Homo sapiens: one gene and its partner. Each later gene encodes a partner of the first gene's protein in a complex. Each region holds a gene or a part of one and is shown on either strand. Other genes may lie near its edges. The genes, in order: SPTLC2 and SPTSSA.

Region 1 (3,447 bases):
GGGGGATGAGTGGCTTCCATGGAGAGATTTCCTGATTTCTCAGGGAGGAAAAAAGTGATGACATTTACCACTACTTTTATGTTTTTCCCCTTTTTCCAAATTGATAAGGATTTCTGGTTCCTAGTGATCCGGGATTGGGCAACAGTGCAGAACTGCCAGTCATGCCGTAGGCCGTGAAGAAAGAATGTGAGTAACTGTTGTTTTGCAAGGATTTGTAGGGTTATGGGCAGTTGTTGTTTGAAGCATTGCTATGACCTAATTCCCAAGGTATCTTTCCTCTCTTGGTGTTCTAGGTAAGCCAATGAGCTTTAATCTCTACTTGCTATAACCGTGTGCTTAGAAAAAGAGGTGAGAGTAGTGGTTTTCCTTCAAACTGTCCACATTCATGAAGATTATGAATTGTTAGGACAGCCAGGGCAAGATAGACCCTGTCTCTACAAAAATTTTTTTCTAAATTAACCGGGCATGGTGGTGCCTGCCTGTAGTCCCACCTGTGTGGGAGAATCACTTGAGCCTGGGAGGTCAAGGCTGCAGTGAGCCATGATTGCACCCCTGCACTCCAGCCTGGGTGACAGAGTGAGACCCTGGCTCAATAAGAGGGGGAAAAAAAATTGTTAGGAGCTGGGTGCGGATGCAGCCTGCAATCCCAGCTACTTGAGAGGCTGAGGCCGGAGGATTGCTTAAACCCAAGAATTTGAGCGTAGCCTGGGCAACACAGCAAGACCCCATCTAAGAAAAAAATGTTTTTTAAATCAGCTTAGCCCAAAGGGGTTGTGAATGGGGAGGTATAAAAAGCAAAGATTATTTTTTGGCTACTAAGCCAAGAACTTACAGGGATTTTTTTTTTCAGTCCCAGAACCTACAGATACCCTGCTACTTGCTTCACGTGGATGCTCAGTGCCCAGCAGCCATCTTAATACATTAAACCAGTTTAAAAAATACCTTCCATGTGGAGAAAAACATGTCTTTTTCTCGCCTCAACTTTATCCACATGAAATATGTGCCCATGGCTGGGCGCAGTGGCTCACCTGTAATCCCAACACTTTGGGAGGCTGAAGCAGGCAGATTGCTTGAGGCCAGGAGTTCGAGAACAGTCTGGCCAACATGGCGAAACCTCATCTCTACTAAAATTACAAAAATTAGCCGGGCATGGTGGCACATGCCTGTAATCCCAGCTACGTCAGGAGGCTGAGGCACAGGAATTGCTTGAACCCAAGAGGCAGAGGATGCAATGAGCCAAGATCACACCACTGCACTCCAGCCTTGGCGACAGAGGGAGACTCTGTCTCAAAAAAAAAAAAAAAAGGTGTGCCCAGGCCCCTAGCCATTGCCATGTGCCCAGCCAGAGAGCCAAATTAGAGGGCTGGCTTCCCTATCACACAGAATAAATGCTAGTGCTAGCCAATGATCCCTTTGCTTTTAATGTATAGAAAATACTGTTGTTCCTTTTGTCATTTCCAGTGACATCTGTTTTCTAAGCAGCTCTTTTCTAGGGAGGAAACCAAAGGGGCTAGGTTAAGACCCTAATAGAAATGTTTTTTCTAATCTCTGGTGAGTCTGGAAGTGTCACATTCACAGTCCACCCTTGGGAGTGGCTTGGTGGAGCTGGGGACAAGGTTTTGTTTACTACATAGTGCACATGATAAATGGCCTTAAACTGTGATTCTTTCTGGTAGGATAAGTTATAATAAACTGACCCTAAAGAATGCAATGGCTTTTAAACTGCAGTTACTGTGTTCTTAATGAAGCAATACCCAAAGCTCTGTTCTTTTGGAGCACTTGAGGGGAGCTTGAATGAAAGGTGCAGATAAGAGCAGTACCTTGATCTTATGCTTTCTGAGTGTCCTGCCTTGTTGCCATCTGCATGGATGAGTGAATGCTTCTATGCACGAGGAGACTCAAGCCAACTCAGAGTCTGCTTTTTCCAACGCTCTTCCCAGGTTTCTTTTGCAAAGCTTGGTCATTTGGCCCAGGTCTTCCTGGAAAGTGGAGTACATGTCACTGACTAGGGTGGCGTGGTGTCTTTACCCTTAACATTAAGTCTTGTTACCTCAGTGATGTGAAGCCAATGGTTGGAATTATAAAAAGCATCCTTGCTGGTTCTTCACAGGACACTGGAACCCACCCTGTCAATTCAGCTAGCATGTCCACACAGTCTTGATGATCCCTCTCTGTAACAGGCAGCTAACATTAAGAGAAGGGGGAAAGAGAAGAAGAGAGCAATAGCTTATGGGAGAGCTGAGATCTTACTTCGTTGACCCATATTTTTCCCCTGACCAAGTTACCTGTAAACTGGAATTTGCAAGGGGATGCTGTGATGATAACCCCTTTCTATTGCTGTAATGTTCATATAACCTGGGAAACTGAGAGAAGGGGATGTGTAAATAAAAGCTTAAACATTTTAGTAATGTGTTAAAATGTCACTCTCTCTTACCCTGTTTCCCTTTTTTGCCAGATGATGATTTTTTTATTTTTATTTTGTACTTTACTGGATGACTGTGAAGCGATGAGTATTGGGTTGGGGTAGGTGTGTTGATTTTGAGAGTGCATGTTAAGAACTGAAGGGGAACTACTTGAGATGACTTAAGAAGCATCCCATGCAAATATCTTGTTTTGCCCTAATAAAATATTCAGAAAGATATATCTGCCTTTATTCATTCAACCAATACATATTGAGTGCTATCTCTCTGATGGGCAGCACACTGAGCTTTGTGGTTCCTACTTGCTAGTAAACAGATAAGCACATGAACATACATGTCATTTTACAAACTGTTAAGTGCTATGGAGGAAAAGTAAAGAGCTTGGTAAAAGTAACCAGGCCGGGCGCGGTGGCTCACGCCTATAATCCTAGCACTTCAGGTGGATCACTTGAGGTCAGGAGTTTGAAACCAGCCTGGCCAACATGGCGAAATCCCGTCTCTACTAAAAATACAAAAATTAACCAGGCATGGTGGCACGTGCCTATAATTCCAGCTATTTGGGAGGCTGAGGCACGAGAATCGCTTGAACCTGGAGGCAGAGGTTATAGTGAGCTAAGATCACACCACTGCACTCCAGCCTGGGCAATAGAGCAAGACTGTCTCAAAAAAAAAAAAAAAAGACAGTAACCATGATCTGGTTTAGACAGGGGTGAGAGAGAAAACTGAGGACGTGGAGGGTCTGAAATAAAGTACAGTTGGAGCTTGATTAAAAACTGTGTGGGGAGGTGAGGTAGTGGGGAGGTGGTAGAGGCAGACTCACTGGGCTTTGTAGATCTTGGTGAGGTCTTTCTCTTATGCAGGGGGTGGGGGTCAGACTAGTGAAAGGGCTGGGTTTTTAAAAAATTTTTTAAATTATTACCTAAAGTGGAGACAGAGTTTCACTGTGTTGCCCAGTCTCGAATTCCTGGCCTCAAGCAATCCTCCCGTCTCAGCCTCCTGACATACTGGGATGACAGGCATGAGCTGC
Region 2 (6,259 bases), about 43 Mb from region 1:
GAAGGTACAGAATGGACATCCCTAATCTGAAAATGAAAAGTCTGAAATGCTCGAAAATCCAAAACTTTTGAGCAACAACATGACAGTCAAAGGAAATGCCCGTTGGAGCATTTTTGATACTGGATTAGGTGTGCTCACCGGGTTAAGTATAATGCAAATATTCTAAATTTAAAAAAAAAATCTGAAATTTGAAATACTTCTCAACTCAAGCATTTAGGATGAGGGATACTCAACCTGTAGTTGTTTAAGTTATGAGGGAATATGGGGCCCAAGACAAAACGATGGGAATTCCATTTTATCATCTGGAACGTTTTCAGCCGCAAGTAACAAAATTGAGCAAGCTACTTTAAGAGTAAAGGGGATTGGCCAGCTCGGCGTGGTGGCTCACACCTGTAATCTCAGCACTTTGGGGGGCTGAGGTGGGAGGATTGCTTGTCCCCAGGAGTTCAAGACCAGCCTGAGCAACATAGGGAGACCCCATCTCTACAAAAATAATAAAGAAATCAGCTGGGCGTGGTAGTGCGTGTTTGTTGTCCCAGCTACTTGGAAGGCTGTGGTGGGAGGATTGCCTGAGCCTGGGAGGTCGAGGCTGTGGTGAACTATGATTGTGTAACTGCAGTCTAGCCTGGACAACAGAGTGAGACCTTGACTCAAAAAAAGTAAAGGGGATTTATTAGTTTAGTATGTAAAAATCCAGTGGTAGGGTGGGATTCAGGGTTTTTTGATGAGGATTCTGACTCCATTTTTCTGTGATTATTTTTGTCCTGCCACCTTCTTGAGTCAGCTTTGTTCTGAATCTTGCTTTCCTCATGGAGGTAAAGTGACTCCAGTGATTGCAAGATTCCATCAGCAAGCTGCATATTGTAGGAGAGAGCATCTATGTTCCTGAATTCCTGGCTGAAGTCCTAAGCTTTGAGCTGATTAATCAGTTTTGATGTAGGGCATTGTTACCAAGCAAAAGAGATCCCTCTAATTGGTTAAGACCAGTCAGGGGTTATCCATGAAGATGGGTTAGTCTAACCAAAAGGGCATGGCTGCTATACTAGGAGGAGAGTGGATGTTTGCAAGGAAAGCACAAAGTTCACTCTTATCTATCATCCATCATAAAGGAAAGAGCCAGTGAAAAACAGGGAAATGGTAAGAGAGATTAAAAGAGGGCCTTAGAAAATACCTGAGCCCAGAGTAGAGTTTTAAAGAGTGGAAAGGATTGTTTTGTTTTGTTTTCTGTTTGTTTTTTGAGACAGGGTCTGGCTCTGTTGCTCAGGCTGGAGTGCAGTGGTGCCCTTCCGGCTCACATCAGCCTCCAGAGTAGCTGGCACTACAGGCATAAATGGAAAGGGTTTTGAAGAAGAAGGACTAAAACAGTGTCAATTCAAACAGCCTTTGGATTTGGTGGAGACCACCAGTGATCTTAGAACAATGCCTACAGTCTGGAGGAGTAAGAATCAGATGGTGTGTTGGTGATGAACAAATATATGCCAATGATATAGAAGCAGCAAATGTATATATTTTTCTTTCTCTCTTTTTTTTTTTTTAAAGAAATTAGTAAATAGAAGGCGGCAGTTTAAGGAATAACTGGATTAAGGGCGGTTAAAAAGTAAATTGTAAAAAAAAGATTGTGAAAGACTTTCTGCTCTTGTTTGCTGGATGAAGAGAATGAGTTTATGGCTTGAGTCAGGCAGTCTTGGTTTGACCTCTGGCTCTAAAGACAGCTTCCTGTATGGCCCTGAACAAGCTACTCAGTTTTCTCAGCTTCTGATTAGTGATGAACATAATAAACATTTCATAGGAAAGCTATAAGGGTTAAGTAAGATAATGTAATTGTGGAAGAGATTTGTCAACTAACCTGTTATACAAATATTAGTTGATAGTAAGCACATTGTTTATTTAAACCCTATCTTCTCATAAAAGAATGTAAGTTATTTTAAAAATAATAGTATGTATAGCTGAAAGGTATGTAGAGTTGAGAAAGGGGAAAGGCAAGTGAAAGAGGAGAGAGAGAGAAGAATGAGAATATGAATGAATTAATAAAGCATGACTCCAGTTCAAAAACAGTTATTCCTCTTAGCATCCTATGTAACTGTGCAAAGCCAAAAGCCCTTAGATTTGACATAATTTTTGCTAGCAGTATTTTGTGTGGCCCCAGAGAGAGGCCTCTTGTTGACTTCCATATATACAGTTTCAGTTCCTTTTGTAATAAAAAGAAAGGAACATGGTACAGAAAGGTTATTGTTTAGGTTATCAAGATTACCTTTATTTGAAGTTGTTGCAAATAGTAGCAATAGTGATAATAATGTTTAATAGTGATAATAGCAGTAGCAGTTGCTGTCATCCCTAAGCTAGTGTATGATTGATTTTAGCTTTGTCTGACTCTAAAAATACTTTTAGCCACATTCTAGTCTAATTCTAAAATTCTTTGATCATACATTCTTATTAGTTAAGTTGGTAGATCTTTTATAGTAATTAAATAGAATTTTATTCCTGTATATTTATTTCTTAGGTAGAACAGTATCACATTCTATGCTTCATTTTAAGCAGTCCTGCCGGGCGCAGTGGCTCACGCCTGTAATCCCAGCACTTTGGGAGGCTGAGATGGGTGGATCTCCTGAGGTCAGGAGTTCGAGACCAGCCTGGCCAACATGGTGAAACCCTGTCTCTACTAAAAATACAAAAATTAGCTGGGTGTCATGGCGGGCACCTGTAATCCCAGCTACTCAGGAGGCTAAGACAGGAGAATCACTTGAACCCAGAAGGCAGAGGTTGCAGTGAGCCGAGATCGTGCCATTACACTCCAGCCTTGGGTAACAAGAGCAAAACTCTGTCTCAAAAAAAAAAAAAAAAAAAAAAGAGAAACAAACAAACAAAAACATTTGAAGCAGTCTGATATTTTCAACTACACAGGGAGAATAACAGTACTTACTTTATATGGTGATAGTAAAGATAGAATGAGCTAAAAACAAAATAAAACAAAACCAGCTTAGAGTGGTGCCAGGCATGGTTGTTAGTGGCTAGTATTATCATTCTTGTTGTTTTTTTTATCAGTGCTTGATATAAATGAGAAAGCACTAAGTGAATGGGTACTTCAGCATAAAAGAGTTGTTGAAGACATGTGGAGATTTAGTTTTGAATAAATTAATAATAATAAGTTTCCTTAACTACAACTCAGATTCCATGCTGGTTTCCATTGTGGGGATGGCACTATACACAGGATACGTCTTCATGCCCCAGCACATCATGGCGATATTGCACTACTTTGAAATCGTACAATGACCAAGATGCGACCAGGATCAGAGGTTCCTTGGGGAAGACCCACCCTACGAAGTTGGAATGAGACCATCAGATGTGATAAGAAACTCTTCTAGATGTCAACATAACCAACCTTATAAAGACTAAAATTCATGAGTAGAACAGGAAAATCATCCTGACTCATGTGTTGTGTTCTTTATTTTTAATTTTCAAAGAGGCTCTTGTATAGCAGTTTTTGTCTATTTTAACATTGTAGTCATTTGTACTTTGATATCAGTATTTTCTTAACCTTTGTGACTGTTTCAATATTACCCCCGTGAAAGCTTTTCTTAATGTAACTTTGAGTACATTTTAATTGCCTTCTATTTTTAAAACTCAAAATCATTAGTTGGGCTTTACTGTTCTTGCTATTGTATGGCATATACATCTGCCTGGATATATTTCTACTCTTGACCAAAGTTTTGTAAAGAACAATATAAGATTTCGGGTAGGGGTATGGGGAGGGAAGATATTTTATTGAGAACTACTTAACAAAAGATTTATCTGTAAGCTTGAACTCAGGAGTACAGTTTTAGCTATCTAGACTCTAACAGCTTTTGCTTTAAAATTATTAAAGTGTTTCTTAATGAAAAAGAAAAGATCTTGCTAAAGTTAAAATAAGGAACATTTCACCTTTTAAATATTTAATTCTTATGTGGACTTATTTCCAGAAAACTTTGGTGATAATTCTTGAGACAAAAGGTGGTTAAGTAGCATTATTATGTAATGCTTATATACCATAGAGTTTTTAATAGAAGAGAAATCCATTTCCTCCGAGGGTCACTATTAACAATGTACTTCCTTAAATTTAGTTTAATGATTGTAATGGGTGCTGCATTTGCACATTGCATTAAGTTATGATGAGACGAATTGTTGTTAAAAATTATAGCAAAAAGAAATGTAAACTTGGTTAAAATCCTTTCACTCTTTGTATTGTTTTTTTTAAGGTTTTTATTCCTTAAATGTAAAATGACTACCTAATTTTTTGATGTAAATACATTAAATTCAAAGAGAAAAAAAATCAGCTGATGTAGCAGTATATCTTTTCCTTGATGGTTAAATATTGATCTAGTATTTATATTGCTGAATTATTTTCTGTGGAGGACCAGATAAGCAGTAAGTATGTCTTATCCTATATGTTTTGCAACATAAAAATATTGCTAATTGAAAAGAATTAGGCAATTATGTGTGTTGCTGGGTTGTTTTTTTGTTTTTTTTTTTTTGAGACGGAGTCTTGCCCTGTCGCCCAGGATGGAGTGCAACAGCATGATCTCGGTTCACTGCAACCTCCATCTCCTGGGATCAAGTGATTCTCCTGCCTCAGCCTCCTGAATAGCTGGGATTACAGGCACCTGCCACCATGCCTGGCTAATTTTTTGTATCTGTAGTAGAGACGGGGTTTCACTGTGTTGGCCAGGATGGTCTCAAACTCCTGACCTCCTGATCCACCTGCCTCGGCCTCCCAAAGTGCTGGGTTTACAGGCGTGAGCCACCGCGCCCGGCCAAAATTGAGGTATTTTTTGCCCTACGTTTTAAGGACTAGACTTTTGAAGTATTTTATAGTCTAGAGGTCTCAAGTAATATATATGTGTTTAATATTTTTAGAGCCAATTGATACCACAATTAGATAGGAGTAGTGAGAATAATATGGAATTACTTGGTTTGAAGTAGTTAAAAATTGGATATGGTTATATCTGAGCTGTAGTCATATTATCTCAAGAAAAATAATACGAGGATTTAACATAAGATTTGTTCTATTAATGCCCAAATTTGGCTTTCCTCTACTATCCCCCATAGAGAACCACTAACAAGTGGATGTCTAATATTCCTCTGGTGAGTTGAAGGCAGGAGAAGTTGAGAATCATTAGTTTCAATGAGTATCCAGGTGACCTATCCTGGCCCTCTACTCAGAAACCGGCAATTTGTCTTCACTCTGAGATTCATTAAATTGCTGTTGTATAACTGATGGTTATTATGAACACTGACCTGTGAGACATATGGAAGATAAAGTTTGGTCTTACAGGAAATCTTGAGGAGAGTCAAAAGAGAAATGGGAGATGTCTCTTGAGAGGTGATCAGAGAAGTTTATGCTCACTGTCTGATGCAAATGTCTGGTCTATTTGTTAGTAAATAACAGGGAAATCATTTTCACTTTTTGTTAAAAATAAGGTATTTACAAGCATACCTTGTAGTTATTGTGGGTTCAGTTTCAGACCACTGCAATAAAGTGAATATCTCAATAAAGTGAGTCACATGAAGTTTTTTGGTTTTCCCCTGCATATAAAAGTTACATTTACACCATCCTGTAGTCTATTAAGTGTGCAGTAGCATTATGGCTAAAAAAAAAAAACACCCAATATACCTATCTTAATTAAAGAATTATTTATTGCTGAAAAAAGCTAATGATTATTTGAGCCTTCAACAAGTCATAATTTTTTGTTGGTGGAGGGTCTTGCCTTGATGTTGATGGCTGCTGACTGATCTGGGTCATGGTTGCGGAAGGTTGGGGTGGCTATGGCAATTTTTAAAAATAAGACAACAATAAAGTTTGCTGCATTGATCAACTCTTCATTCATGAAAGATTTCTCTGTAGCATGTAAGCTATTTGATAGCCTTTTACCCACAATGGAACTTCCTCCAAAATTGGAAGCAATCCTTTCAAACCCTGCTGCTGCTTTATCAACTAAGTTTATAAAATATCCTAAGTCCTTCATTGTAATTTCAACAATGTTCATAGCACCTTCACCAGGTGTATATGCCATCTCAAGAAACCACTTTCTTTGCTCATCCATAAAAGGCAAAACCTTGTCTGTTCAAGTTTTACCGTGAGATTGCAGTAATTCACTCACATCATCAGGCTCCATATGTAGTTCTCTTGCTATTTTTAGCATATCTACAGTTAACTTCCTCCACTGAAATTTTGAACCCCTCCAAGTCATCCATAAAAGTTGGAATCAACTTTGCAACTCCTGTT

The links.
Region 2: the proteins of SPTLC2 (region 1) and SPTSSA are in contact, whole or in part, in a cryo-EM structure (PDB 7K0K), measured with the Homo sapiens proteins. Residues at the interface, in NP_004854.1 of Homo sapiens: Leu73, Gly77, Val80, Leu81, Phe84, Leu87, Arg88, Leu91, Leu126, Arg129, Ile130, Tyr156, Met475, Pro476, Ala477, Lys478, Gly480, Ala481, Arg484, Glu485, Asp533, Leu534, Leu535, Gln536; in NP_612145.2 of Homo sapiens: Trp15, Tyr18, Gln19, Leu21, Leu22, Val23, Thr24, Ala25, Tyr27, Met28, Leu29, Glu30, Pro31, Trp32, Glu33, Val36, Phe37.

The regions. Positions count from the first base shown.
Region 1 is NC_000014.9:77,505,191-77,508,637, reverse strand, and holds the end of SPTLC2 (serine palmitoyltransferase 2), read left to right. Parts: 3' UTR 1-2,641; downstream 2,642-3,447. UniProt on the Homo sapiens protein: Component of the serine palmitoyltransferase multisubunit enzyme (SPT) that catalyzes the initial and rate-limiting step in sphingolipid biosynthesis by condensing L-serine and activated acyl-CoA (most commonly palmitoyl-CoA) to form long-chain bases.
Region 2 is NC_000014.9:34,432,212-34,438,470, reverse strand, and holds the end of SPTSSA (serine palmitoyltransferase small subunit A), read left to right. Parts: intron 1-3,166; coding exon 3,167-3,270; 3' UTR 3,271-5,683; downstream 5,684-6,259. UniProt on the Homo sapiens protein: Component of the serine palmitoyltransferase multisubunit enzyme (SPT) that catalyzes the initial and rate-limiting step in sphingolipid biosynthesis by condensing L-serine and activated acyl-CoA (most commonly palmitoyl-CoA) to form long-chain bases.